2 separate regions of the Homo sapiens genome follow, and region 1 is linked to region 2. Evidence: fine-mapped expression QTL. Tissue or cell type: gastroesophageal junction. Region 2 holds a variant in brackets; the other region holds the start of a gene. All regions are shown on one strand. Distances are from middle to middle.

Region 1 (5,468 bases), 340 kb after region 2:
CAAATTACCCAGAGCTTTGATTCAAGATTCCTTCATTAAGCCATTAATATAATACATTGTTAAGTGGTGGGTTGTCCAATTTTTATGATACTTTTCATTTCAACTCAATGGCTGCAGTTAGAAGGAAAAAACAGCATCTGCAAGATCAGCAAGATGATGTAAAACCTCTACACTAGAAACATTTTTTTTTCTGTTCCACAGTTTGTTTGTGGGCAGCCAATGCCAGAGCACTAATAAAGGAAGTGATTTGAAGTCTCTGAAAGTAGTAGTCATTTATGCTTACTCAATAAAGAAAAGGGAAAATAAATGCTTGATTCCTGTGACCTCAGACTCTTAAACAGAAAGCCACTGGTTTTGTTATAGCATTCTAGACATACTTAGCAGTAGGCAGCCAGTTTGTAACTCTATCCCACTTTAGGCTTCAATACATATTTCCCACTAGAGCTTATATATCCCAATGTAGAGTGTCATGTATTTACTATTTTGGCTTTGTTCAGTGATATGCTTAGATAATTGATGTATGTGGGAAACTGATACACAGAGGAAAACTATACCAAAAGCTCAACATTTTTTATTTCTAAACTTAGATACAGCACAGAAAATCTAATGCTGAAAAAGATTCTCATATCTGTTATTAGAGGTGGTGTAAATTATCTGAATATGAGTTCTGCATGATTTCAGTTAACTCCCTATGTTTATGTATGATGGGAATCTAATTATGCATCATTTAATATACCCTGGAAACCCCATTGCTTTTAAAAGTCACTGCTAATAAATAGAGGAACATGTTTAGTTTATGGTTTATCTATCACTGAAACACTCTGGCAAACGGTAGGTAAATTCATGAAGAAGAGACATTGTTGAAAATTATATTCCTTTTGTAATTACAGTCTATGCAATATTATTAAAGGCCTGAGACATAAACCAAAACATAATATAAATCATAAAAAGTCAGGCTTATCAGGAATAGTAGCAAAAGGTATGCACTTGTATGTTAATGAGAGATTGCAGTAACTAAAGATGCCCTGTCAGGATATCACGTTTTTTGTTTTAGTTTTTTTTTTTTTTTCATAAAAGAGTTTCAGACGAATCCATCACTTTCCCTCAAGATGCAAAATATCCACATAGATAATAATACAATTCAAGTAAATGGCAAAATATAGTAAACTTTGATTGGAAGTCTGGTCGTTTATAAGCCTTCTTGGAAATAAGAGCATCCCGAATAAAAACAAAGAGAATGGTATAAGCATGACTTGAAACTAAAACAGAAGAGTGAAATTGTGAGTTTGTTCTTTACCTTTAACCATGTGCTGTCAGAAAAGCCTCAAATTTTAAACAACACCTGCATTGAAGAGTGTCTCCAATCATCTCACTGGTTTTGAGTTACATGGTGATATAAATAAAGACATGTGATTTTATACTCTCTCTCTAGTCTTTCATCCTCTCTCACTATAATCACTTTAGTATAACCACCAGTTCAATGCTCACAATGAAGGATGAGCTTTTTTTAAAAAAGGATAAGAGATCCAAAATTCATATGACAATGAAATCCTGTTATCAGATTTGTAGTCAATTTGATGCTATTTATTTCTAGCAGTTTGCAAATTCTTCCCCAGTTCTATCAAGAAAATTGGCATGGACTGGAAACTCTTCTAGACACTCACAAAACTTTCTTCTGGAAATATACCTCTGATAGATTCTCAGTAAAAAAAAAAAAAGTCATGAAGATGAAAGAAGTGTTCAGTGGAAACTATTCTTTCCAGTCTACACACACATGCAGAGCCAAATGCTTTATTGTGACTCAACCTTCAATTCAAACTCAAATCAAGTAGGTATGTCCACTGTCAGTACCCCGATATATCAATGCCCATGTGTTAGGTAGATGAATGAAGACACATGTGCAGAAGCAGAGGGAAAAACCAGATCCTACCTTGATTGTTTTTGAGGGTTGACACTTGATGTGATGGGACACGCTGGCAGTTTGGTTCATGTTTCAGGACCCTGGACAGTGCACAATCCCAGGCGGAGTTCCAGAATGAACTAGAGATCAAGTCTCCTCTATTGGACTTCAGTAGGGGCTGCTGCTGTTGCTGCTGCCGCTGCTACTGCTGTTGCTTCTGCTGCTTCTGTTTCTGCTGCTTCCTCACTCCGGAGGCTGAAACGCTATCAGATTGGAGGAATCTGTATCTCACTTAGCCCTAAATAGAGCATTTACTTGGTTCATCAGTCTCAAAGCTCTTGGCAATATGCAATAGAAAGCCAAAAACGGTTTAAATTCACTTGCAGTGTACCTTTTCAGTATGGAGATGTGACAGCTCCACAGTACAGCCAATGATCCTGGCTCTCATTCCCCTTTCAAAGGGACGAAAACCAGAAAACATACAGAGATCAATTGCAGTCCTGCAGTTTAAAGGGGCACTCTCAACTCCTCTGTCTCTCCAGATTATAGTTTTTCCAGTGCAAAATATTTCTCTCTCTCTCTCTCCCTCTCCCCACCCCTAACCCAGTTTAAAAAAAAATCATAACATCCTCATTCTGTTACTAAATTTTATTCCTTCCTGGGTACTTCTTGCAATCAAAACACAAGTAAATGCTGTGGAAAAAAAAAAAAAAAGACTGTTGGCAGTTTCAGAATTTGGGGGTTTTATATCTATAGGTTGAAGGACTGATATTCCCTATGGATATTTTTAAAATTTAGCCATAACAGCCAGCCAAGAGACTGTCCTTTCTGTAAGGTGGCAGAAAGCTTAAGGTATATTTAAAAAGTTTTCAAATACAATAGTTATTGTAGTTTTTGGATATCGCACCAAAGCTAGACAATGTTTTTATTTTCAACCTTTATTTTTGACCATTGCTTTCCTTGAAGCCGTATTTTTTGAATGCCTGGGACAAACTGGTAGTTAGCTCATGCCAGTCTAACTCCCCAAATGGTCACCTCTCTGTCCCTAATGTCATTTTAGGCAAAATAAATTATAAATATTTGTAAATTAAGTTTTCCGAGTCACCAGTCCCCATTGTCACATCAACACTAACTAGAATAAATATATCCTGGTTGGAAATAAGATCCAGTAGTCTTGAGTAAATGCAGGACACTCTTTTCCAACTTTTGTTGCAAAGTGTTTGATGTTGAAAACCAACAGTATTTATTCATCAGAAATGTATCCTACTAATGAAATGCTAGGTTTATAAGATTGAACTAACGAACTACATTCAGGAGGCTTTTATGAACAGCCTAAAATATTACAGATAAACTTTAATGTGAAATGAAATAAATTAATGTTTGGTGAAATTAATTTATACATAATTATAAACACATATTTTCTCTTGTAAAACAGAAAAGGGATCTAAACATTCTGACAAAGTAGTCTGCACATGTTTGAGGATGGCTAAGTTTCAGAAGGTTATAGTTCTGAGTAGCAAAGTGGAGGTAAGGATGTGACAGAAGTAAGATCAGACTGTTTGCAGCCACAAAAGTTAATGGCAAGAGTATTGGAGAAATCAGGAGAATCATGGGAAAAGAGATGGAGCCAATAAGAACCAGGCAAAAGGCTGTGTGCAAGAATCTGGTGTAGCAATATCCAGGCATCATATTGAGCACAACCAGAGGCAGCCATAGGGCCAACAAATCTCATGATTTGAAGTTTACAATTCTAAATCACAAATGTGACTGGAATTTGTGGCTTATCTTGTATTTTGCTTGAATAGCATTGCTTTGAATAATTCATAAATCACAAAAAGAGTATATTAAAAATGTTTAAACATTTTGTATTCAACAATAATGAAAACAACACAGAAAATTTGCAGTATGCAGCTAAATCAATATTTAAAGGAAAATGTATATAATTAAGTACCTATACCAGAAATGCAGAAAAGCATAAAATTAATAATTAATAAGCTAATTATTCATATCAAAGAGTTGGAAAAAGAATGGCAAAATAAACTCAAATAAATTATAGGGGGGAAACAATAAAGAGAAGAGAAGAAAGTAATGAAGTAAAAAACATACAAAATACTCAATGAAAAAACCTATGAACATTTCATCAGGTGGTTTACAGTTTGATAATCTCTGAATAAATGAATGTTCTATACCAGTAGAATTGGCTTAATTCCTTTCTTAGATAGCACTTTGTACTAGGTATCTAAGAAACTTCCAAACTAAATTATCTGGGGAGCCCAGGGAGGGAGAGCAGTCCAAGAGTTCAGAGTATCCCATCCCCATCAAAGAACTGTACAGGATGGAAGGAGCCACTAGTACTTCAAGGAACCCTCTCCAGGCACATTGATAGAGACAGCATTTATATGCCTACCACAAAGAGGGTATGAGTTGCTGGATTTCTACAACTATAATCACATGAGACTTCACCCCTTTTCTACAATTTTTCAAAAAGGTTCTACCCCCACCTGGATGGCAGCAGGATCCAAGAAAGATATTGACACTACCATTTATAGGTAGGTGGCCAGAATCCACCTAAAATCTTTTCCCAAAGTTGCATTTTGAAAATAGAGAAAAATCACAGTAAGAGAAAAGAGTGCCTCGTATACACCATATGCTCCCTTTCCAGGCTCCACATTATATCAAACTCCAAGTTCCAAAGAAAAATCAAGTGTTCAGAGCAAAACATATGACCCAAATCTCATTTTGGATTTTGTTTTCCCTTTCTGTTATATTATCATTTCATGAATCAAGGAAATGAAAACCATAGTAATTTTTAAACATTTCTATTTAAAACATGTATAAATTGTTCATTATTTTGTAAAATCTGCTGTATCTTAATGTAGCCAATTGGAATGTACAACTAGAAGAAAATAGAGACCAAAGAAATTTAGACAAGTGCTAGAGAATTACAAATACCGCTTAATAAGGATAATTCATATACATTTCTTCTAATTGGGATATATTGGGCTCAATATGTTTAGAATGAAAACAGCTGCAAAATTGCATCACGGTTTGTCACATGGAAGTAGTTTTTTTTAAGGTTTAGATCTGCTGAAGAAACACTATACAGTAAATCATACTGAACTAGAAAATTTAGACAATTTAGTCCAAAGGACCAATTTCAAATGTAATCAACACTTATGATAACCGTATAAAAATATGTTGTTGTCAAACAGTTTGGGAAAAGTTAGGAGTGAGTCCCTTCCACCTTTCCCACAAAAAAAATTAAGATGGCTAACGCTTTCAGAAAATATAACCCACGATGTTCCTTGACCAGCTATCATTTGATCCGGGAAATAGAAATTTAGGATGGGGTTAATGAAAATATCCCATTAGAAAAAAAAAAAAGTCAAAGTGTCAGATGGATTCTACTACCAATTTCCGTCTCTTTGTTTCAAGTCCCATCTGCCCAAGCCCTAACTAGCTGGTCACAGTGATGACCTACAGATTGCAAAGTTAGGCAAGCCCAGGCCTCTAGTCAATAAGAATGGTATCTGAAAGGATATTGGGCTGTTTCCCTGATTTTTTTGAA
Region 2 (5,000 bases):
GGAGATGTTAAACACATTTCTCATCTTCTGAAACTTGAAGCTTATATCCTAGTAGGAAAGATATGACAAGTACATGCAAATTAAATGTCTCATTCACCATTCTATTCACAGTAACTGACAAATGATATTCAATAGAATAATCTTCCCAATCAGATTGTAATGCTCTTGACTTAAAGACTGTCTCATATTCATTCTCAACATGTGCAACATTTTCATTCATGATACTAAAGATAAAAATTCATTAATTTAACTAGGTAGCCTACTAATTTAAAATATTCTACTCATGTCAATAAATCAACCAATCAACTAGATAAACATTTAAGATATCTTAAATGCAATTTAACAAAATTTCTTTCTGATAATCATAATAATGCCCTTTAAATACCAAACAACATTTTTGAGGAATGTTGTATCTACATAAATGCAGTTGTAATTTAATAGTGTGTTATTGTAATAATAGCTATTGTAAAATTTAAATGGAATTTAGTGATAACAAATAAATAAATCTTGTTTTACTATATAAACACATTGTTCACAGCTATCTTGAACCTAAATTCCTTCCAGTACCCTAAAGAATTAAAATAATGATTCAGACTTCTGAAATTAGATTGGAACTTAGGTTGGTGCTTACTTTGACTAACTGTAAGTCTTTTAGATTTTCCAAAGAATATAAAGATCACACATGAAGGATATTTCATGAGAAAAATAAGTATGATAATTTGTCACTTGTTTTCTCAAAACCAAGCTATCCTATTATTTGATGGAGTTAGATGAGTTAGATGACAAAAATACTCTATATCATCACAACAGTTTTGTCTGCATTATCATATTTGATCCTGTGAGTAAGGCAGGGAAAATCAATCATCCCTCTTTTCCTTCCCTCCTTTCCCTCCTTTCTTTTTTGAGACGCAGTCTCGCTTTGTCACCCAGGCTGGAGTGCAGTGGTGCAATCTCGGCTCACTGCAAGCTACGCCTCCCGGGTTCACACCATTCTCCTGCCTCAGCCTCCCGAGTAGCTGGGACTACAGGCGACCACCACCACACCCGGCTTATTTTTTGTATTTTTAGTAGAGATGGGGTTTCACCATGTTAGCCAGGATGGTCTCGATCTCCTGACCTCGTGATCCGCCCGCCTTGGCCTCCCAAAGTGCTGGGATGACAGGCGTGAGCCACCGTGCTCAGCCCCTTCCCTCCTTTCTTATGTTATCCTCATGAGAAAATGTTTTTGGAATTTTTGATAAACATGATCACAGAAGCATAAATATCTAAATCCCACCTGATAAAATAGCTGTACTGGCAGCATTTCTGGGTCTATCAGGTTACTTTAGCGCAAGGTTGGGCATCCTTAACACCAGAATATTATAAAGGAGGGTTATCACAGGTCAGGGCTGGTCATGAACAGACCATGCAATCAAATGGGATGAAAGGTCAAGTTATGTTGGGATATGAAAAAGTCCTCAGCGTAAACTGATATCAGCTTAGACCATATCAAAATTAGCAGCTTGTATGTAAGAAGTCAATCATTACATTTTATAAGATATGACGGGAATAGGTCCTCTGAAAAATCAGGAGTCCTCTGCTACCCTAGATATGAGATAACTTTGATCAGAGGTGGTTTAGGACCTTGGGTAGCTCTCAGGGAGCTGGCTCTTGTTCTGTTAATAATAAAAGCCATACTGAACAAACATATACCTATGTTTATATTGATGTCTATATGCAGACAGAAAATCTCAGAAGAGTCTGGTTGCCTGTTTTTTCCTCATAGTTAGCTTAATCTTTATGAAACACAAACCTCTTCGTTCAGATGAAGAGCATTTAGTGTCCACATCCACATCCAGGAGAGAAAGCCAGGTTATTCTGTGTAGTCTGGAAGTTTCACAGGGGTATACACTGATGAGAAGGCCTGACTGCAGCAGAGGAACTCTGTCTGCTGCAACACGGGATTACTCAGGCCCCAGAGGTACCAACTCCACTGGACCAAAAATAGAGCCCAGGCATGTAAAGCTTAAGACCATGAACTCTCAAGACAGCTGCTTTCTGGCATTGAATTAACTAGGGTGCTACTAATTTTTACAGTAACCATAAAGGGGAGAATAGATTATACATTATTTTTTATAACTAACATGGGATTGTGACACCATTAAGTTGCGCTTTGTCTTTCGGTCAATTAAATTCATAATTTATTGTAATATGCTAGAACCCTATGGCAGAGGCTGGCAAGACTCATCAAATCCATTTTATCTTCCATCAGAGCATATAGGTGGACTACATTTTCTGGCTTCCTTTGCAATTAGGTGCAGTCATGCGACCGATTTTAAACCAGTAGGATTTTTCATGGAAGTGGTATATACCACTTCCAGGCCTGGTTCATGTACTTTCCTTGCAAGCTTCCATGATTTCTTTACTATTTTATCTGCCGGTCAGATTAACGGAGTCAGTGGTACACTCCAAGACTCTAGACTTTAACAAAGCCATTAGATGGATGAAGCCTGGAACTCTAAATAATTGCGTGAAAAAGAGACAACCTTCCACCCAAGCAAACTTAAGTTTACTGTAACATAAATAAGAAATAAA[T/C]ATTTATGTTGGTAAGTAACTAAAATGTGAAGCTATTATAGAAATTAGCCACTGTGGCTAACGTTATAGGACTAATAGATATTTTTGAATATGATACATATGATCAAATCACATTTATATGAAAGTGCAGGTCTCGGCTATGAGCCATGACACTTGAGTTTTAATAAGCCAAATGTTTTGCATATATAATATACTTTAGTAACTTGCATTTTGAAATAACCTTCTTGACCCAGAGAGTAAGACTCAGTCTATCTGTAAGTGTCATCCCTTAATATTGCTTAAAGATGATAATGATTAGGGTAATGAATGATAATGATGATGCTAATACCTATAATAACATTTCATTTATAGCCCTTCTTAGTAATGTATTTATTTAATTGTCTCACTCTTTCTTGGACATGTTTAAGATGATTGCTATTATTCCCATTTTAAAGGTCTTGAAACTGAAATCCAGAATGTCAGCTAACTAATGAAAGACACGACAAATTCAAATTTAGATCTTCAGATTATTGACCCTAAAGTCCATGCTTTACCACTACCCTACAATTATTTAAGCAGAACCTGTCATAAAATTGCGGATATGAGTCTAACTTAAAGAACAGTGAACTCTTTGACTATGTAACTTCATAGAACTTACTATAAAGCATCTTGGTTCTGCGGCTCAAAGGATTTCTGTTTAATGATGTCATTACCATATAGCCAGGACATAACACTGCATTTAAGAGATGTAAAGTAGTCATTTAAACATTTACTGCTTTGGGCTTCATATCTATTACTGATAGAAGCTTTGAGATGAGGATTTAAATACTACTTTATATTTATTTCTTAAGCTCAGCCACAAAGCATTTTCACACGAGACATTCAGCAACTCTGAAAGGGCTACTTCTTCCCAGCCATTTGCATTTGGTCAAACTTCCTTCTTTCCTTGCTGTTTATGACTGTAACAAGTGGCATAATATGAAGGACTGAAATAGGGAGGTTGCCAACTTTTCAAAACTTTTTCTGGAAGAAATATAATTTAGTAGGAATAATATATCCAAAAGTAATACTCAAAAAAGGGCCCTGAAAACCCTCTTCAGAAATGTATGTGGGTAATATATTTCTAAGGATTGTGATTTGTACAGTGCAAAATCCATGGGCAGTTCAAAAAAGTTGGACCAGGAAGAAAGGAAGCCATTTCCAGCACAAGACAGTGTTTCCTAGGCTGCAGAATTATAAGGTTTGAATGTGACTTGTTGGTCTTCCTGTACTCTTTTCTTATTCTAAGAAGAGTTTCAAAAATAAATGAGAATATGGTTATAAAAAACAATAAAATATACCCATTCTCAAAGAGTACATTTCATTTACTTCTGAATAAAAGTCTTAACATATGTAAAGCCTGTATTAACTGCTTTTAGTCCAATAATTGCAACTATACACTATATAATGTATATATTATATAGTTATGTACTACATGGTTTATAAAACATTTTCATATATCTTTTTTATTTTTGAAAAAGTATGTTTGGCAGAAATTCTTATGCCTTCTTTTTTTTAATTATGAGAACACTGATCCTTAGAAAGTCTTTTTGGCTACCATTATCTTCTCTAATAATTTGATTTCCTTTTCAAAACTCACACTGCTCAGAGAGGTGTCTCCACTCATCCCCTTTTCCAATACTCATCAATTCAATACTCATCAATTCTTATAATCTGCACTAACTTTATTTAATTTAAATCACTACAACTTGAATATGTGACTTTAAAAATTACTCTAATGTAATTTATCCAACAAATTTTTTGATCTTTTTTTAATGTAGTGTTTGTCAGCTCCCACCATAGATGACTTCAAGCTGCCAAAAATTTAACAAATGGCTCAAAAAATGTTGTACATTTAACAATATTTCTTTTGAGCCTATAAAAGCCAAATTCATCACACTACTGGCAGTGTTCACTCAGATCTAGCGCTAGCTCCTAAGGAGCTTATGGCCTGATAACGGAGATTGCATTCAGTAGAGAAAAGCTAGGAGTCTATTTTCTTTGACAAGGTCTTGGAAGCTCTGGAACCTTAGGTATGAATGTAACTGTTTTTTCCTTCTACATAAGCAGCAAAGGTCATTCAAGCAGAGGAGATAGTGTGTTCAAAGGCATGGATGCATGGAATGCCATGGCATCATTCTATATCCAATGTGCAGTGGGAAGGGCTGTCAGAAAAGAGAGTTCAGCAGGCCTCAGATCATGGAGGTTTGTTTGTGTTCTAATTGTTGTTCAATTGTTCACTCAATTGGATCAACTACATGACAACTAAGATGTATCTGCAGCTAATTTTACCTGTAACACTTTGTCTCTTTATTTTTATCTAGAGCTATATCTAAAAATCAGTGTATTTTCCCATCATATCTTCAAAACTCATTTTGTTTTTCACCATCTCTGGGAAGACATTCTTG

Alleles and levels. Alleles are on the strand shown, and positions count from the first base shown. SD is a standard deviation of normalised expression in the study named.
For the expression in gastroesophageal junction of the gene that starts at base 2,128 in region 1, allele T in region 2 goes with a higher level than allele C (small effect, 0.25 SD a copy in GTEx).

The links. PIP is the estimated chance that this variant, and not a neighbour inherited with it, causes the effect.
Region 1: DPP10 starts here. The variant in region 2 is the best candidate, but not a certain one, in a credible set for the expression of DPP10 in gastroesophageal junction (GTEx, PIP 0.68).

Annotation. Positions count from the first base shown.
Region 1 is chr2:114,439,301-114,444,768 of GRCh38, reverse strand. DPP10 (dipeptidyl peptidase like 10) reads right to left here and starts at 2,128. Exons shown (of 26, transcript NM_020868.6): 1 at 1,931-2,128. The coding sequence starts at 1,990.
Region 2 is chr2:114,776,039-114,781,038 of GRCh38, reverse strand. The region is part of intron 1 of DPP10 (dipeptidyl peptidase like 10); the gene reads right to left. Among named protein-coding and RNA genes, the nearest start is that of DPP10-AS3, 55 kb to the left of the region's middle. The variant T/C (reference allele first, on the strand shown) is at 2,575.